2 separate regions of the Homo sapiens genome follow, and region 1 is linked to region 2. A link means that fine-mapping ties the variant in region 2 to the plasma level of a protein whose gene starts in the linked region. Region 2 holds a variant in brackets. A gene starts in the other region. All regions are shown on their reverse strands.

Region 1 (10,334 bases), not on the chromosome of region 2:
GCACTGCAGGCCGACCGGAGGCTTCTAGCTCGCGCCGGGTGCGTGGGCCCTCCCTGGCCGCCTGTGCCACCCCGCTGCGCGAGGCGCGGAGCCCGACCACGCCCGCGCGGACGGTCCCGGGGTGAGGAATCTCCAGTGGGGATTGAGGGTAGAGGGCGGCCGCCAGCGAGCTGCCCTCCGCGGATGGCGCCCAGCCTCCCCACGCTGGTGCCCCTCGCAAGGAGAGGTGGCCGGGAAAGGCAACGGACTGAGGAAAGCCGGCTCACTGGCCGCGTCGCCACCGCGTCCCTGAGTGCTCAGAACTTACCGAGCGAGCGCGCCGCCCAGATCTTTTCCCGGAGGCGCCCGCAGCATCTGCGACTCGGGGAGGCAAAGGAGCCGGCACCGCCTCGGACTGGCGCAGCCCAGGAGCGAGAGCACCGCGGGGAGCGCGGGCGGCGCCCCCAGGGCAGGCAGATCCCCACCGAGCAGCTAGCCAACGGGCAACGCTTCTTGCAGGAAGGAGGGAGGGAGGCGAGAGGGAGGAGGGAAGTAAAGCGGGAGGGAGGAGAGGGGAAGAAGGGAGGGAGGAGGGAGGAGGGAGGGAGGAGGGAGGAGGGAGTGAGGAGGGAGGAGGGAGGGAGGAGGGAGGGAGGGATCGCGTCCCCCCTCTCCCTCACTTATCAATCACCCCACAGATCAAATATCCGGGCTGTGCACCCAGGACGGGGATGTAAGAGCCCACAAAGGAGCCGCTGCTCCATTTCTCTGACAAGCGCTGCGGAGCACTGCTCACGCCTCTCGGTCCCTCTTGCCTGGAACTCTGCCCAGCCCTTGCGGCTTCCACCCTGGGCTGCAGCTCGGGCTCGGTCAAGTGAAATAAGAATGGCACACGGTCGGTACCATGTCCAAGGGGAGACTAAGACTACTGGGTGGAAGTTAACGACAAGTGAAAGAGCAGTCAGCCATCCGAGCTGGACACCCTCCGGGACAGCTGCCTCCCCTAACTAGTAAGCGCCCAGTCTTTGGGAGTTCGCAGGCAGATATTTAAGAACCTCCTACGAGGATCGTAAACAAGGACTTTCAACATAAGATAGAGCTGAACTTGAGTTGTGCAAGTGTGTTAACAAAGCAAGCCCTTAGCAGCGTTCCAGTGCCCATTTTGATTCCCTTTATTCTTCACGACGACGTTGCCTGGATCTTCTAGAGCGTGATTTTTGCCATCCTCCCTTCCCTTTTCTCCTTTCTTCTTCCTCTTATTAGTAGTCCAGGTGGTTGTGATTCTATTAAAGGAAGGCGCTCTGTGAAAAGAGTCAGTGTAGTTCAAGAGGGAGGTGCGGTTTTTGCCAAGAGCATTGCGTTTCCCCTCAAGACTTGCTTTCTCTAGGGCCTCTCCTCTACTCTTCCAGAGTATTCGAGATAAAGTTGCAGTTTGATAAATTTATGCCAGGAGTAGGGAGTTCATTTGATGACACTAAGTCATTTTCCCCTCCATCCTGTAGGAGAACGTCATTAATTCAAGTCGTTGCCACCCCCTATCCTTTTCATGCCCGCTAGAGTCTGCAAAACCCCAAATCCTTCTTACTGTCGAAAAGCGTGATGGTGGAGAGCAGACGGGGAGGCGAGGAGAGAGGTGCAAAATTAGACGCAAAATTACCTCTCCAGCTAGTGGATCTGCATTGGAATTTGTCTGTTTCCATATTTCCCATGCCTTTCAACTCGTTCTCACAGCACTGACAACCACCTTTTTCTTGTCCTTCCCGTGGGAATCTTTTGTGCTTCTCCTGTCCTCTCTTCTTGGCTTTCTTTCATAATGGTTTTCTAAGGAGATTATGCTGGGCTTTTTAAAAAGAAAACTACTGGCAATCTTATATTATGAAGATGTACAGAGTTTGCTTTAATAATAGTCGGAAGAATTATAATCGTATCTTCGGAGTTGTAAGGGTCATTACTGTTCCTTTTATTTCATTCTTGAGAAAGCCTTTTTGAAATCTTCCTACCATTCAGATAAGCAACTTCGGAATAACATAGTTCTCACATAAGCACGTGGGCAGTGTATGTACGGTTATATATCCAGAAGCATTGCTCTTCTTTTTACAATATCTGTATTAGTGTAAACATCCAATGTGCTGTTTGCTACAGACTAAAAGCAGTGCACTGAGCACATCATATTATTAACTAAATGAGGTCAGTTAATACTGTTACTTCTGTCTTTACCGTATTTCTGACTGTGTCATCTTTTCATGTCGCTTTTAGTAGATGTTATAAACAACTGCAAAACACAGAGCTAAGAGGCCATTCCAATACAGAAATAATGAGACAGTCATGCTGAAAAACTCAGACAGTTTACTAAGAAGGGTGATGTGTCTGTAGCCAAAGGGAACATACAAAATAAGCAAAAACTTCTATACAGAGTAGAGAAGGAACATGGCATTAATGATGAAAAGTGATACTTTATTTAGATCCAGTAGTAACATGTAATAGATGGCATGCATCAATTTTAATTAGCCTTGTAAGCAAGTCTAACCTGTTCACCAGCCTTCGAAAAGCATTTAGCAGCCTGCCTTTCCACATGGGACCACACTGATAGTAAGACAAAATTAAAAAGAGCAGACTTTTCTTTTTGTCAGCATAAAATTTTCAAGTAGGTGGATAGCTGTGCTTTGAATGCACAGACACGAAAATTGATGAGCAATATAAAACTTTCTGAGAGGGTTTTGCATAGACAGTTATAATGGAGGAGAGTTTGAAGTCTGTGAAAAATTTAAATATGCCAATTTATTTGAAAGCTGCTTTATGCTGAATTTTCTAAAAGCTTCTGTGTTAGAGGAAAATTTCCAAATAGAATTGAATACTAGAGACACCATATTAATGTACTTCTGTTCATTAATAAAAATCACATTATTCTTCTTTATACTAGCACTGTAAATGTATCTTTATATCCATGTGCTGTTTTCTTTTTGAAAAACTTTTATTTTAGGTTCAGGTGTACGTGTGCAAGTTTGTTATATAGGTAAATTGCATGTGGTGGGGGTTTGGTTTACTGTAAGCTACTTTCTATTGTGAAGTTCGTGTTACTAAACAACATAGAGATCCCGATTGGAAAACTAGTGGAAAAACAGAGAAATAAAACTAAATCTTGCCTGGGTTTTTATAATTTCATTCTAAGGTTAGAAGAAAACCAGAAATTTCACCTGCGATGAGTGAGATAAAAAGCGCATATGTTTCCAGGATGATGTAAAGGATGTCCTATTACTGTGTAGTACGTAATTTACCTGAGAATGTTGCTTTTTCAACTTCTTCACACCTATCCAGAACTAGAAAGCTTTAAAACATATAAAAGAAGACAAAATGTGCTGCATTTTCAGTGAACATAGTTTCTTTCCAACCAAAGGTTTCAAAGAAGAGTGCCACAGAACAAATTCCTAAATAAAGAAACGCAACAAAGCGGACATGCCCTTAATATTAGTAATTATAGTTTACAGGATATTGTAGACTTTTGTTCCTGATGTTATTGAAAAGGTGGATATTTTTCAATTCAATTCAATTATTTGGATTATTTGGCAGGCATTTTGGCCTGATTGAAATAGTGCTGGGCCAAGACCCAGGGCAGTTTTTCTTTTAATCAAATACATATCCAAGCCCTTGGAGCCCAATGACCTGGGTTCAAATTCCACCCGTGCTACTTTCTCACAATGGGACAAAAACAGCATTACACCAATTTCAGTTCCCCATGTGTAAAACTGGCACCTGCTATGTGGAGTCAGTAAGGATGGGATGTATACAGAACTCTTGAAAATTGAACGGTGGTACATGTATGTGCAAATAAATCTTAAACTAAAAAAATTTTTAACTCACTTCTTAAAATAAATAAGTTATACAAAATATTTTATATCTGTTTTCTATGTTTCTCATGACAATCCTCAACAGGCCAGTATGATTAGCCAGACTTTACAAAAGAGGAAAGTGAGACTCAGAAAATTTAAGTAACTTACCCTTACTCCCATTCTTGGTGAAATGGTTGATTTTAGTCAGAAACCAACATCTTAATTTAAGTTGGATAACAGAATTAGCATTAGAAAAAATATTTATGATTCTAGTTGGAGCCATGTAATGTCAAACATTTAAAATAACTTCAAAAAAATTCCATCTTTCATTTTACAGATGTTTTCAAATAGTTACATATATGTATACATCAGGGCTCAAACTCAACACTGTTGATATATTTGGTCAAATGATTATTTGTTGTGGGGGCTGCCCTATGCAATGTAGAAGGATTAGCAGCGTCACTGGCTTTTGTGTGTGTGTGTAATGTGCATATGTATACTATATATACATACGTGTAATTATATAAATGTAATAAGTAATATAACAATATATAATGAAATATTATTCTATTGTAGTCGATTTTTTAAATGCTTGGCTGTGGCCCACTAAACTGAACTCAGGAGTGACTGTAGATTGCCTCTTACAGTTTGAATAACACTGCCACGCTGGAATGGGCAGGAAAGGAAGGAAAATGGGATAGAAAGGAGAAAAGAGGCAGTAGATCAAGAGGGGAAGTACAGAAATAGAAGGAAAAGACAACTGCATGTCTTACAAAGTTATAGAAAGACTTATGGTGCCCCCATCAATTACACCAAGTGCCACTTATTAATGATACCTGTTCTCTAAGGGCTCTGGCTCTCCCTCTTTTTTGACTGAGTCCAGTGATTTATCAGTAAGAACCACATTTAAGCTTACTAGACTTGGGAGCACATATACATGGCAAAAGCCACAAATTTAACAGATAAGGCTCAGGACAGCATTAGTAGGTATTTCATCTATCCTGACACATTCTATCTTATGAATTTTGCTGCAGCTGGAAGTCATATTTTGGTTTGGAGTTACAACCTAATGTGTTCAGGAGGAAGCCAAATTTATTAGGTTTGACATTGCACTTTATTGGAATGGTATAATGCAGTTGAGCCTCTGTAATAAGTTCTGTTGATTTTATTTATGTATTTATGTTTGGCTAGTATAAATATATGGTAAAGTATGTGCTGTGGTAGAGAGTTTAATGCTGACTCTGCTGGAAAATTCAAAAATGTCTGCATAGAAGATGCCCAGTTCTAAAGAGTTACGGTCAGAGGAGCAGCTACTCAGGATTTGCACTAAGTAGTTCTGATTTTTAAAAATGTCATCATTTGTGAAGAGGACTAGTCTATTAATATGAACAAAATGGCAAGGATGACATACCCCAGATCTACCTGAAGTTGTGATTTGCACAAAATGAAGCAGAGTTTCAAAATTGTAGGTTTAGAAATGAGGCAAGTAAGATCTAGAATGTAAATAAAATCATTTCCAGTAATAACTGGATGCCGCATTCAACCATCATTGCAAATCAATGTGAGGAGAATGGATGTTTTTTACCTTGAATCCTGATGACTTATTACTCAGATGTGATATCAATTATTTTTGTCCCCTTCTATTTTTCATCTCCCAGGCAGTTTCTTAAGTGACAGTACAATGACATTTGGAATACAACCCTCTTCACCTGATTATGGTAGGTCAGGTAACCTCTTAGTCAGATGTAACGGCCCCAGGACATATATTAAGTAACTTTTGCATCTGCCTTTGGTCTCACTATATTCCTAAGCAAATTGAAAAGAAAATGAGCCTCAAGTTTTATGAGTTTTAGATTACCTAAATACACCTGAAGTTCTCTTAGAAGAATAGCCTGAAGTGTCTCTGAGGTGGAAGAATTATATGCAGCATCTTGAAAGCATCACTTTGCGGGAATCTCAGGAAACCATGCCAATATTGAAAGCATAATTATCACCAAATTTTTCTTCCACCGTGGGCATCACCACAGCAACACAAGTACAGGAGTGGGGTCAGTGTCACTTTATTAATATTTTGAAAGGAGGCAAAAGCAAGCTTATTTTTTTTTGCTACACATCGTTGCTTCAGAATAATAAATTCAGTATGCTGATCCTTTAGCTTTTCATATATAGGTCTAGTTGACCGAGGTTAGAGAATGGCACAATTAGAACTGGAAAATTTATTTGCCTTAATTTGAATATATTGAACTGTTTAATGTATTTTTCAATAAAAATACTAATATGTAGGGAGCGCTGTACATGACTGCTAAATGATGAACGCTGGTTATTATTTGCAGCATGGAAAGACAACTGTCAAATTAATGAACTGATGTTCTGGTTACAATTTTAAAAAATATAATCACTCAATTTCAGGTAACTCCTATACTTGAATATAAATAAACATTGTATAACAATTTTGACTAAACCTGGATCCCTGCTGTAAAGTTCCAGTTGCTTGGAATTCAAATGTCATATGATTTACTGAAGGTTCTGAATGGATCTGCTTTGATTTATATTGCAACATTGGGGTGTATTGAATTCCAATGAAATTGTTGATTTGTTATCTTTGCTATGGCCATTAGCCAAATTCATTCTTGAGCTGCAGTGGTGATGTAGATCACAGCTTACCTGGCTTCATCAAGTTGTGTTTCTCTATGGTTTTTAAGTATGTGGTTTGGCTAAAGTAGAGTTCAAGGACACAGATGGACCATAATACCTATATTAAATTAAACATCCAACTTCTTGATCAATTTTCAGTGTTAATATGCAAAGCACCTGTATTAGTCTGTTCTCACACTGCTAATAAAAACATACCCAAGACTGGGAAATTTATTTAAAAAAAAAAAAAAAAGAGAGGTTTAATGGACTCACAGTTCCACATGGCTGGGAGGCCTCACAATTATGGCAGAAGGTGAAAGCCATGTCTTACATGGCGGCAGACAAGAGAGAATGAGAACCAAGTGAAAGGGGAAACCCCTTATAAAATTAACAGATCTCATCATGAGACTTACTACCACGAGAACAGTATGGGGGAAACCACCCCATGATTCTATTATCTCTCACCAGGTCCCTCCCACAAAACGTGGGAATTATGGGAACTACAATTCAAGATGAGATTTGGATGGGGACACAGCCAAACCATATCAGTACCTTAAATAATTTTAAAAACCCACCTTAATAAATTACTGTAACTGATAATTCTATGTAAAAAGTCTCAAAATAATAGGGGAACAGGGCAAGTGATCTACAATTAAACTGCAGGCTTACAAAGCTTCTTTCATGCGTGTTCAATTCTTATCTTTCATTGAAATACCAAAGTAATGTAATGTTTAAGAATTTTCTACTTGCAAAATGCTGATGATTATTTTGGGTATAAAAGCACTTGATAGCCTAAGAGTTTGTGTTTTATGTATGTGCCTATCTATCAATACCTTCCTTTCCCTGTTTCCTCCCTTCCTTCCTTCTTTTCTTTCTTTTATAATTGATTTGGGAATTCCTTCATTCACAGTTAGATGTTTTATCAACAAAAAGTATAAACACTACAGGGAGCAGTTTATATTATGATAAAATGATTACTTGAAATGGGTTATCACTACATATAAGTTTCTACGATAAAGATATCATCATGTTTTTTTTTTTGTTCGACAGTCTCGCTCTGATGCCAGGCTGGAGTGCAGTGGTGCAATCTCAGCTCACTGCAACCTCTGCCTCCCGGGTTCAAGCAAATCTCCTGCCTCAGCCTCCCGAGTAGTTGGGACTACAGGCACGCACGCCACCATGCCCAGCTAATTTTTGTATTTTTAGGAGAGACGGGGTTTCACCATGTTGGCCAGGATGGTCTCAATCTCTTGACCTCATGACCTGCCTTGGCCTCCCAAAGTGCTGGGATTACAGGTGTGAGCCACCGTGCCCAGCCATAATTGTTATTTTTACTCAAATTTCCATAGGCTATTAGAATGGTAGGATGGGAAGGGGATCTAGCTTCAGCGTACCTTATTTTGTAGTTTGTGTTCATCTCCAACATCCACATCCCCTGGGCCCTTGTTAAACAGGAAGATTTCTGAGCTCCTCTAAAATCTTACCGAATAGAACTTTCTGAAGGTGAAGTCTGGGAATGGTACTTTTATAGGACTCTCAAGGGAATCTGATGTAAATGGCAAGATCCATTCTAGTCCAACATCTTCATTTTATAGATGGGGAAAATGAGGCTCAGAGAGGTGAAGTGATTTTATTCAGTCATACAGGCAGAGTCAAAAGAAAAATTCACATCTCCCAACTCTCATGTAAATGCCTCTGCTTGGTTGTTTAATGTTTTGATGCTTTAATTTTAGAATTATATTTTTTCATTGATGTTCAGCGTTAAAATTTACCATTGCACAATACACTCTGCTTATGAACCATGTTATAATAGGCCTGCAAAAAGTGCATGCTTGGTCAGCCACATTAAGCAGTACCATTTTATTTTCAAATTCTTTTAACTAAAATTTTATTGCTTATGTTGTGCTTTGGGATGAACTATATAAAATGGAATAAAATGCTTGGTAAATAGTTATTGAATTTAAAAAAATGAACACAAATCTCAGTATTGAGTTTAGAAAGATTTACTTCATTATTTTCACATACATGCTAAAATATCAAACTTAAGGAAATCTGAAGTAGCTTACTTTTCATGCTATCATTTACTAGATCTACTGAATAATTTTGAGGATATTGCAGGGAGACCCGGGTCCATAAATAGTTTTTTTTTCTCTTTCATTTCGCATCTTCTTCGTTTCAAAATTTTGAGTAGAGTTATATAAGTCCTTCAGAGTAGGCCTCTGATGCATGGGGGCTGAGAACATTATCATGAAGCTCACTTGACCTATAAGTGTCAACTTCAAGAAAATTTCTGCTACTAACTTTTGAAGATAAAATAGAACATCTAATGAACATTCAGAAGAGGAAGATATATATCCATTTCATGTAAGCTGACCTGGATTTCAGCTGCAGGATCTCTTCTTGACGCATTTATAACTCATTTTAATTGCTAATAGGTACTGTGTGTACACACCCAAGGCAGAATGGGACTAAGCCTCTCAGATTTACAAAGGTGAATTAACTTAAAATTAAACAATAGGTTTTTGTGAAAAGACATTTCATTTGACATAATCTAATGCTGAACCAAATAGATGTGATTGACAAGCCCCAATTATCCAAGAAAGTTGAAAGGACTAGTGACATTTTTATGCCCCATCTACATTACTTTAATTATTTAAAAGGGGAATTTGGTGATTTCATTTGCATAAAGTGCAGATAGTAGAAAGTATGTGGGCTTTGGAGTCAAACAGATCTGGATTTGAATTCCAGCTCAACTATCTAACCAAGAATGTGAGTAGGAGTGTGGGCATGTTTTAAATTCCCTGAGTCTCACTTTCCTCTTTTGTAAAGTCTGGATAATTATACTGACCTAGTGAGTATTGTTGTGAGAAACACAGAAAAAAGATATAAAATGTTTCATACAGTGCCTAGCATTTAGTAGGTGAAAAGGAAAGCATATTATCCTCCAAGTGTTCTTAGCTTGATCCATAGAGTAGGGAATACCGTCCTTCTGGAAATAATAGGAAGAGTGGGTCTCTCTCTCTCTTTCTCTCACTTTCTCTTCTTCTGCCTCCTCCTCCTCCTCCTCCTCCTCCTCCTCCTCCTCCTCCTCCTCCTCCTCCTCCTCCTCCTCCTCCTCCTCCTCCTCCTCCCTGCCTCCCTTCTCCTTCTCCTCCTCCTGACTCCAAGAAAGAAGTGATCTCCCTGGTGAGTTTGAGAGAAGAATCTGAACAAGATTAGCTCAGTGATGTTTGTGTCCTTTTTTCTTTCCAGGGCCACCTACTCTCAGATTATGCCCAGCACTGCCTGGGACTGGATGGCTAAATTTAATTCAGAAGTCTTTGCCGGGAAGTCCAATTATGGCCATAGACCAAACCAAGTTATTGAATTTATTGTTAACAGTAATGAACCTGGTATTTTGAGCTCCATCTGTCTGATACTTGCATTTACTTCTTAATTAGTTATGAAACCACAGTGTGTTGAAAAGCGTTAACATGATCACCACCAATTGCCCACCAGTAGGCAGTCAATAAATTATAGCTATTATCACAGACGTTTTTAACTGTACCCTCATGCTTTCTGTAGTAATTTGATCTATTCAGTATACAAAATGTCTGTCACTTAATGAACTCCTTATGGGGTATTGCTGTATACTTTAATTCCTTATTAATTAATTAGGAGAAAAATGGCCATTAGTATCTCCTATCTGGGTGAGTAGCATAACTGCCTCACAGTTTGTCAAAAGTGAAATTCACTTCAAATTGAGAAGAAATGTTAGGTTTGATTCCCCCTCAAGTTCAATTCTGCTTAGTCATACATTGTATGTATTCTTTCTAAGCCCAGACAATGTCTAATATATCAAAAGTAACTGGATTTAGAGGTATTACGAAGTAATAGTCTTCATCATAGAAAAAC
Region 2 (10,699 bases):
AGTTTTTCGTGTAAAATGGTGTTATTTTTTAATAATAGAATCTCAATACTTGAAATGGGTTGGACCCAGATGAAACCGACAATCTTAAACACGCCAACTCTTTCTCTTATCAGTGGAAGTAGGTTGCCCTCCAGTGTCTAAAGAGACTAGCCTTGCTTGAAAACCTTGACTATAGAGGATGCCACTATCTAGATGGGCTCCCTGATTTCAATGGGGATGACACGATCTCAGAATAGCAGAAACCAGGCAGCACATAACCAACAAAGACAAGGTGGGCGCACATGTACCTTAAAGGGCAGCAGGAAATCAGACTGCCTTGGCTTACGGAGCTGCTCTGAGAACAAAATAGATAGGCAGTTGAAATAGATTATTGCTTGATATTTATAACAGGTAAAAAGATCTAAGTCAGGTAGCCAAAACCTGACTTGAGTCACCACAGTGGATAGTCACAGTCTCTCAGTTCTCAGACCTAAGTCAATTCACAGACCCATAGTCCCTTGGTTGAAAGAGAATCTGTGTTCCCTTTAAGAAGGATCTTGCACCTTGGCTACAGTACACATGGCAAATTCTTTCAAGCTTTCCCCAAAACGACATGTGGCCATTTACTAGTGAAACTGCATTGGCGAAAAGGAAATACACAGATCATTTGAGGTTTACTAAACACTGGCTCTGAGTTGATGCTAATTCCTGGGGACAGAAATCACCACTGTTAGTCCACATACCAACTATGTGGCTACTTTCCCAGTGTAATTGGAATATGTATTAACAGCATAATTTTAATGGCAAAAACAGCAATTACTTTTGCACCAATCTAATAATTGTAACAGACATACTTAGCAACTGACAGGATCCCCACATTGGGATTTAGCCATAGAATGAGGGCTATTATTAGGGAGAGCTAAATGGAAGCTCCAGGAGCTCTTAGAGCTTCCACTTAGCTCACTAAACACAACACTGCATGGCTGGCAGGAATTGCAGGAATCAGTGCTATCATAAAAGTCTTAAAAGGAGTAGGAGTGGTGATACTTACTCTCATTTAATTCACCAGTACAGGATACATCTAGTAGAATAACTGTGGACTCATAAACTTAATCAGGAAGTGATTCCAATTGCTGCTGCTGTCTCAAATGTATTATTTTTACTGAAACAAATCAACATAGCACTTGGCACTTGGTATATAGCTACTGATGTGGCTAATGCTGTTTTCTCTATATCTGTTTGTAAAACCACCAGAAGCAGTTGGCTTTCTCATGTTAGGGCCAACAGGATACCTTCACAGTATTGTCTTGGGGGTATGTCAATTCACCTTAATATAGTCCACAGAGATATTGATTGTCTTGACATACCATCAAATATCACACTGGTCCACTACATTGACAACATTATGCTGATTGGACCTGATGAGCAGGAATTAGTAAGTATTTTAGGTGCTGTAATAATATATATTTGAACCAGAGAGAAGGAGATAATGATCTTGAGTATGAGATGACAACTCTAAAGTGGTCACTTCGGATGTGGGATATGTTCTAGGATGGTAAAGCTATATGAGGACAAAACCACTGAGTCACTGAGAGATGAATCCAAACAGATGGTGTGGGTTAGCAATGGTTAGGATTTGGGGGAAAAGGGGCAAAGTGATTGTTGCAGGGACTGGTCATACCAATCACGTGGCCATGGAAGGAAAGTGGTATAGGCTGAATGTTTCTCTTTAAAATACACGTGTTGAAGTCCCAACCCCCAGTACCTCAGAGTGTAATAGTATTTAGAGATAAGGTCTTTAAAGAGGAGATTAAGTTAAAAAGACGATTAAGTTAAAATGAAGCTGTTAGTAAGGCCCTAATCCAATCTGACTGGTGTCCTTATAAGAAGAGAGAGAGACCAGGGATACATGCACACAGAGAAAAGACCATGTGAGGACAGATTGGGATGGCAGCCATCTGCAAGCCAAGGAGAGAGGCCTCAGGAGAAACCAAACCCGCTGACACTTTGATCTTGGACTTCTAGCCTCCAGACTGAGAAAATAAATTTCTGTTGTCTAAGTTAGCCAGTCCTTAGTATTTTGTTATGCCATCCCTAGCAAACAAATACAGAAGGCAACCACCCAGCTGATAGAAAATACTAGGTAGGTGCAAAAGTATTTGCGGTTTTTGCAGGTAATGGCAACTGTGATTTTTTAAAGGTAATGGCAAAAAAACCGCAATTACTTTTGCACCAACCTAATATTTGCAAACCACATATTTGTTAAGGGACTAATATCCAAAATATATAATGAACCCACATAATTCAATAGTAAATAAATAAATAGCCCAATCTTAAAATGAACAAGTCACCTGGATAAACATTTTTTCAAAGAAGACATACAAATGGCCCACAGCTAATATTAAAAGGTGCTCTAGGTCGGGCACTGTGGCTTCTGCCTGTACTTCCAGCACTTTGAGAGGCTGAGGCGGGCAGATCACTGGTGAAATCCGTTCTCTATTAAAAATACAAAAATTAGCCATGTGTAGTGGGAGGTGCCTATAATCCCACCTACTGTGGAGGCTGAGGCAGGAGAATCGCTTGAAACCAGGAAGCAGAAGTTGCAGTGAGCAGAGGTTGCACCACTGCACTCCAGCTTGGGTGACAGAGCAAGACTCCATATAAAAAAAAAAAAAAAGGTTTTCTAATCATCAGGCAAATGTAAATGAAAGCCACAATGAGATATTACCTCATACCTGTTAGGATGGCTACTAGAAACATGTCAAATAATAATAAGAGTTGACCAAGAAATGGAGAAAAGGAACCCTTGTGCACTATTTATAGGATTATAGACTGGTAGGCCATTGTGGAAAACAGTATGAAGTTCTTAAAAACTTAAAAATAGAACTACCACATTATCCAGCAATCCCACTCCTGTGTATATATCCAAAGCAACTTCTCTTTTTCAGAAAATTAATTTGGATGATCTTGATCACTTATTTACTTTACTGAAATAAGATTTTACTATCACTTATGAAAAAGCTGTATGTTTTCCTATTGTTACTAACATATGAGTCTTTAGGTCTCCAAAAGCTGACAATAGCCATTCCAAGAGATGTGAGGTGTTATCTCATTAGATAGCTGCACTCCCATTTTCATTGCAGAATTATTCACAATAGCCAAGATATGGAATAAACCTAAGTGTCCATCAACAGACAAATGAATAAAGAAAATGTGGTATATATAAACAATGGAATACTATTCAGCTTTTAAAAAGGAAGGAAATCCTATCATGTACAACAACTTAGATGAACCTGAGGAACATTATGTTAAGTGACATAAGCCAGACTCAGGAAGACAAATACCTCATGATCTCACTTATACTGGTATGTGGAATCTAAAGAAGTCAAATTCATAGAAATAGAAAGTTGTATGGTGGTTGCCAGAGGCTGGGAAGTGGAGGAAATGGGGGGATTTTGGTCTAAGGGTATAAACCTTCAATTATTAGATGAATAAATTCTGGAGAGCTAACAAACAGCATGGTGACTATGGTTAATGATACTGTATTGTGTACTGAAAATTTGCTAAGAGGATAGATCTTAAGCGTTCTCATCATCCACAAAATAATGGTAATTATGTGAGGTGATGGATACGTTAATAAGCTTACTTGTGGTAATCACTTTATAATGGATACATGTATCAGAACTTCATGTTGTACACCATAAATATATACAATTTTTATTTACCAATAATACCTCAATAAAGCTGGAAAATAGATTGATAGATAATTGATAAATTGATGATAGAGATATACAGATAAATTAGATGATAAATACATAGGATGGATAAATAGATGAGATGACATAGATGACAGATAGAAAGATAGATAGATGATAGATAGATAGATAGATAGATAGATAGATAGATAGATAGATAGACAGACAGACAGACATTCTGGTTTCCCCAGGACCTTCAGAACAAACCTAGGTGCCTATCCTGGGATACAATCTTTTCATTTGGGAAAGATATGAGAAATTTTATCCTCCCTTTGGATCAGAGCAATTATCTCTGTCATTAGGGAAACAAATTGCTACAGATTTAATCCTTATGCTATGAGAAAATTTTCTAGCAAAAGTGAAAGCAAACATTCTCTATAGTGTACATGTTTCTGGGGCTCAGGAGGCTAGAGCTTTTTGTAGGAACACTGAAAATAGAGGGAAGGGAAGGTACATGAGGGCAGAACCCATATCATAAAGGTTCAAATTTGATTGCTTCTCCAGTACATAAAGCTTTTGTGACTTTGGGAAAGTTACATAATATCTCTAAGCCTCCATTTTCCAACATATTATATTGGGGTAGTAACAGTGATCTTTCAGCCTTGCTGTATGATTGCCACAGGTAGTGACATATTGGGAGAGCATTCACCAGATACTTCCATTTACTCTGGGAAAGGGAAAGATGGGTGCAATTGAGAGGTGAGTAGGGGAGAGAACATTGGAAACAGCTGCTATGGGACATGGAGAAGGAAGTCCATGTGGATAATTGGAGAGCATTGATTTCTCATGGAGCAAGTTCACCATTTTCTCCCTTGTCATCGATCTATGGCTTGAGAGCTCAATGAAAGTGTACTGTGAGCATAATCCAGGAAGAACCCCTTCTACCAGGATGCAAGAACAACGGCCACCCAAGGAATGCTCCAGGTTGGGAGCATATCATAGATATCTGTCATTTTTCCTACCCACTGATATACATTTTTGCAGTGAAGATTAAGTTAAAGTGAGCACTCAATGTAATTTTGAATAGGAAAGGTCTCGAAGGAGTGCTTGGGGTGAGGTTTCTGGAAGGCATGAGGTCTAGCCCCATGCTTCTGGTGATAAGTCTGTATGTGCACAAGAGCCTCAGCTTATATTTGCTAACAATAGGAAAATCTATCTTTTCTGTCAACTGATACTCTAAGTCTGTCTGAGCTCCTCAAAGGCCTAAATAGATCATATCTAAGGGGGACAAATTGGAAAGGAGTAGGACAAAGTTCTAAAGCCTAAAAACTTGAGAAAATTTTATAATTGTGGTTGCATAAAACTATAAATGAATGCGGGTTTAATCCTTTTCTCCACTCAACCTATTGTGAGAATCAGTCTGTCAAAGCCCTGAGCATCCTTACACATTCTTTCTGGGTATGCTAAGAATGCAAGGCCCTGACCATTATTTACTTGTGTCCTCTCAGGGTTGTGTTTGCAGGGAGCAGCCTTGAGCAACAGAGTAATGTCTTCTCCCAAACAATGAGCAGACTGACTTACCACACACTGTAAAGCAGTAAATTCCTCAAGCTCAATATTCCTTTGCTGTGACAAATCCACTGTGTATGTTGCATCCACCTGGACCCTTTCCCTCAGACCCTGTGGGATCTGGGGGACATGAGAAACTAGCACCGACATCAGGCTCAACATCTTCCTGTCTCTTTAACATCTTCCTTTGTCTCTAATCAGGGTGTCTTGTGTTTTCCACTGACATCCACGAAACAGTAGTGACCCCTCGACCTTTTACAGATCTTGAAATTACCCACCTACCTCAGAGACTCTTCATATTGTTGGCATAGCCTTTACCTCCCTGTGCCTTTCTTCCCATGAAAGGAAGCTGCAAGAGAGGATGAGTCAAGTAGCATAATACACTGCTGAGAGAGACATAAGAAGGTAAGGGAAGGAGAGCTGGAGAAGGACTTTATTCTTTATAACCCTTCTCACTATTTGAAATTATGTATTGACTTATTTTATGTCTATCCTCCCAATAGAATGCAAGCTGCTACAAGTCAGAGACCTTGTGATTCAACATTGTATCTTAGTGAGTAAAATAGTGTCTAGCAATATTGAGGCCTAATAAATATTTGTTGAATGAGTGAATACTAATCTTGGTCCTGAGCTACCAGTTGATGTGGATTGGTGGTGCCCATTATGAGTTGCCCTGGCTCGTAATAGATGTCTGTTTGCTTTTGAGCTGCATTTAAAGCTATTCCTTTTGTCTTTGTGAGTCAGCACTAAATCTTTATATTCCTATAAAGTGAGCGTTTCTTTAATAAAAAACGCTTTAAAGATAATTTCTCCCCCAAATTATTTTACTAATCATCTCGATCACGAAAGGAAGTCCAATATAGGGATAGAAAGAAATGAACACCATATAATGCATCTATGCTCAGTGCTTTATTTATGTTGCCTCATTTAATTATCATAACTCTGCAAGACTATTATATTAACATCTATTTTACATATAAAGAAACTTAGATACAGAGAAGTTAAATAACTTGCTTTAGAATA[G/A]TTAGCTACTAAATGGTATAGCTTCGTTTTTCTGGTTTCAAAACTCCTCTTTTGATGCAGCATTCTATAGAATTATGATACTTTATACCTCGTATTACAACGAATAGATTTTTGAAAATAACATTTAGGAAGTGTATTGCTCAGATTAAGTGTAAAAATTAGTAATCATTCTAGGTATTTTAAGCAAGAAGTTATTTAATAGAGGATGCTTACAAAAATCCATGTCAGGATTGAAGAAATGGGCTGTAGACCAAGCTTCCAAAAGTGATTCCCCGTATAATACCAAGTGACCTATCAGTGAAGCTAGTACCTCTGAAGACTACTGGAACACTGAGTTCAAGAACATAACCCTATGACAGAAGATGGAGTCAAAAACCTACTGCTGTCAACGGCCTCTGCTGCATATTGTCTTCCAGGAGGCTGAATAATGGACCATGGAACACTGCTGCAGAAAAATGTTTCTATGACCTTAATTCTAAGAGAAATGCCACCAAAAGTGGTCAGGAGGATGCCTTAACTTCTTTTCTCTTAAGTTTTGCATGAGTGTATCGAATTGTAGACCTAATTCATATCATAGCTCTACGTGCAAAGAAGTCTAGGAAATGTTTTAATTTTCCAGCCTCTGAAGTACAAAAGCCACCATAAGAAGAGAGGAGAATGGACAGTGAGTGAGCCAGCCTGCAGTACTTACCATAGGCAGTATTTGTAGAAATACAAATACATCTACAGAGAGAATGGAATAAAATGTTTAAAACTGTCTCTTTCCAGAAAAACCTATATTATCTAATATATGATTACTTATTTGAACTCTGAACTCTTGAAATTACAATCTTTATGGCTATGATTTATCCTGGGGAAAATATCCTCTATGTACAGTATAATTAGGGCTAATAATATGTCTAAATGTGCACTTATCAGAGATGAGAAAATTATTTGTGATGTAGGATCATCACTTTCATTTTTCTACAAGCCTTTGTTTGCTGTCACTACAATTGGCCTAATTTGGGGGAAGAGGAGGTCTATTTCCAGCCAGACTAGGCCTTTCTATGGATTCTCTTTGACTCTGATTTTCATATGCCACACAATACTCAAATAGGAAAGGCTTAACAACTCTGTACTCTAAAGCTTCAAAGACACTTAGAACATCCAAACATTTTACATGGAGAAAGGTAAAAAGATTTGCCCGAGGTCTCAAGGAGACTAGACTAGAAGCCCAGTTCTCTGGTTCCACGTCTAAAGCTTTTTCATCACAAAACCAAGCCTTAGATTGCATGCTATCTAAATACAGAATGATGTGTGTGTGTGTGCATGTGTGTGTGTGTGACTCCACTTATATCAAGTTCAATAACAGGGAATAAGCTGTATCTTTAGAGAAGCATACTTACATGTAAAGCATAAAGGAAAGCAACAAAGCACTAAGCATCAATGTCTAGTTCGCGGTGGAAGAAAGGAGTTGTGACTGGGAAAGGGCACATGGGAACTTCAAGGGTGAGGGCAAGCAGGGCTCACTGATGCATGCCTATAGTCCCAGCTGCATGGGAGGCTGAGGCAGGAGAATCACTGGAGCCCAAAAATTTGAGTCCAGCTTGAGAAACAGAGCAAGACCCCATCTTTAAATAGAAATTTTTAAAAAAATTCTAAAGGGGGTGATGGAAATATCCCAGGAAATTCAGTTTTGTAGGACTTAAGTTTTTTTTCCTAAGTTTTGAAACCCAATGTAATGTATTTGACATTTTTGCCTTTACTAATACTTAGTTTTAGTACCTATTATATGACAGAGCCAGGCTAAATGCTGGATTACTTCCTTTAACTCTAACAAGAACACTCTAATAAAAGCACTATCACTATCCTCATTTTGTAGATGAGAAGACTAACGCCCAGCTTTTTACTAACTTGCCCAAATCCACACAGTTCAATAGCAGAGCTGAAATTTAATCCATCTGATTCCACCCCTCTGCTCGGCTAGCCACAAGAAATTTAGTAAGTGAGAAAATTATAGACACCTCTTTTTATTAGTATTTTATAGTCATAAAAGTTATAGTTATGAAAACCATAGTAATAATACAAAAAATAGGATGTAAAATTACACACATATACACACACATAATTATGATTACATCGATGTTAAAAATATATGTGCCTAGGTATAAAAGACCACAAAACACTGATAAGTTAGGATGATGAAATATGGGTGCTTTTTCCCAATCTTCTCTGTTTTCCAAATTTGTTATGAAGTGGTTGCATTAAATTTACAATGGAAAATATGTTCTAAAATAAACTTCCCATTTATTTGAAACATAAAATTTCATTTCTGTTCTTTTCTTTCCTACAGCTTTGTATAATCTTTAGAAAACTCTTCTGCTCAATGAGTGACTTCATTACTAAATTGATGGCACCGGATCATTCTAGCTATGCAAATTACAAACCCACAGCCAGCTGAGGAAAAGGCAGATAAAAGATTACATTAAAAATTAAAGCAATGTGTGGAGATATGGAGATAATGTGCTTGCAATTAGTTCTACATATTTAATATTTATGCAATTACAAAGCCAGTTATGATAAATACAGCATTAAATCTTGAGTCCTATTCCTTTTGCCCTCTGACATTTTTGACCTTGAACTGAGACTGCCCAATAATACATTAAAAAATGACTGTGGGAGAAGCATTTCCTTTCGCCTATGAATGAATGATAAATGCTTATTTCTTGGAAGGTGATCTCATTTCTCCCTAGCTTTTGTTTATTTTCAATGCCTTGCTTTTTTTTTGGTTTTTGTTTTTGTTTTTTACTCTGGCATATTCTGATCACCCTTGAAAGCACTGGGTTTTCAGTCTTCCACAGTTTGGTTGTGTTGTTTTCTGGTGCTGCTGCTGTGATGTGTTTTCTGTCAGAGGAAATTTACAGGCACATTAGCCTACTTGACAGGCACAATGAGCCACAAGGCTCTCCTAAGGAGAAACTTCCACATGCTGTGGCGAGATTTTCTGTCTTTCCATCTCATCCTCCCTCTTTAACCTTAATATAATATACCCCCATGATTCCGATATAAACCCCAACCACTTTCCCTTACGGGTATTGCTTTGAATCCTGGTTTTAATTCTCTGATTCCAAAGAAGATCATTATACTGCTTCTACAATAATTAATTCCTATTTCCATAACAATCTGACTGCAGCAGTTTGTAGATAAAGCCAATGTCTTCGCTTACAGCCCTATAGATACCAAGTAAGGAATGGATGGGGAACATTTTTTTTTTCTTCCTGTGATAAGTCACTGACACAAAGGGAGGAAAATAGTATCCAAGAAGTATGCAAAGAAAAAGCAATAGAATTAATTTTTTGGAGGATATTAAGAGACAAAATTATAAAACAATTTACTTTTCTTAGTGTTTCACAGATCAGCAAGAATTAATAAAATGTATTAAAAATTCAGAAACATGGGCAGGGCACAGTGGCTCACACCTATAATCCCAGACTTTGAGAGGCTGAAATGGGCAAATTACTTGAGCTCAGGAGTTCAAGACCAGCCTGGGCAACATGGTGAGACCTCGTCTCTACAAAAAATACAAAAATTTGCTGGGTATGGTGGCACATAGCTGTAGTCCCAGCAACTCAGGAGGCTGATAGTGGGAGGATCACTTGATCCCAGGAGGTCGAGGCTACAGTGAGCCATGATTGCACCACTGCACTCCATCCTGGACAACAGATTGAGACCCTGGCTAAAAAAAAAAAAAAAAAAAAAATTCAGAAACACAAAATGAGACAACTGAAGAGGTAAACTGTTTTCTTGGCAGATTCCTGATAAATTAGAATATTCCCCCAAGGTCATTAAAGAACAAAAGGCCTGTGCATTTTTCATTTCATATATATTATTCTGCCCTTTGGGAAGTAAATTTGCTAAAACAAAGCCTTTCTGGTACATTCATACCCTGACTTGATGCTAAAGATATTTCTTCAATTTAAAATCTTCTGCCTTTTAAATAATTTTGAGGGGTGATTTTTGTTTTGGTAGCATTCCTTTTGTCCTCCTTATGTGTGAACCATCAGCGTGTAAGTATGTAACCTAGAGAAGTTATTTAGAATAGACCAAAATCACATGTAAGTTTCTTGCTTGATTCTCTGCCAAGAAGCCAGAGGTATTTTCCAAGCCAATCCATAATATTGGTCGGAGCTACTCCATTTGTTGAATGAATAAACAAATGAATGAAGTTTGCATTATCAGGAACCCAGGAGTGGGTGGTTTTTCAGTGGACTCATTCTTTAGAAAATTAACTAAGAACATTCTTAATTTGGTCCCCGTGCCCTTTTCTCTTTCTTGGGCCATGCTCTCCAGATGGTTTCACGGAAGTCAACTGCAGCTGTGTTCTCATCCATGCCTTCTGTCCCTTCTCCCCTTCAGAGTTCAAACAAGACTCTTGTTTAGCTCTGGCAGCTTGG

Direction of the effects. Alleles are on the strand shown, and positions count from the first base shown. The strength of an association depends on the size of the effect and on how common the allele is.
With allele A in place of G in region 2, the plasma level of the protein whose gene starts at base 505 in region 1 is higher (weak association).

What was found. PIP is the posterior inclusion probability: the model's chance that the variant is causal. Protein levels are from antibody-based Olink assays in UK Biobank. Linkage for the fine-mapping came from a reference panel and not from the study's own genotypes, which makes the PIPs less certain.
Region 1: it holds the start of SLITRK2, and the variant in region 2 is fine-mapped to the plasma level of the SLITRK2 protein (UK Biobank, PIP 0.92).

What each region holds. Positions count from the first base shown.
Region 1 is chrX:145,808,000-145,818,333 of GRCh38, reverse strand. SLITRK2 (SLIT and NTRK like family member 2) reads right to left here and starts at 505. Exons shown (of 5, transcript NM_032539.5): 1 at 308-505.
Region 2 is chr5:109,677,103-109,687,801 of GRCh38, reverse strand. MAN2A1-DT (MAN2A1 divergent transcript) reads left to right here. Exons shown (of 1, transcript NR_186543.1): 1 at 1. Among named protein-coding and RNA genes, the nearest start is that of MAN2A1, 7.5 kb to the left of the region's middle. The variant G/A (reference allele first, on the strand shown) is at 6,267.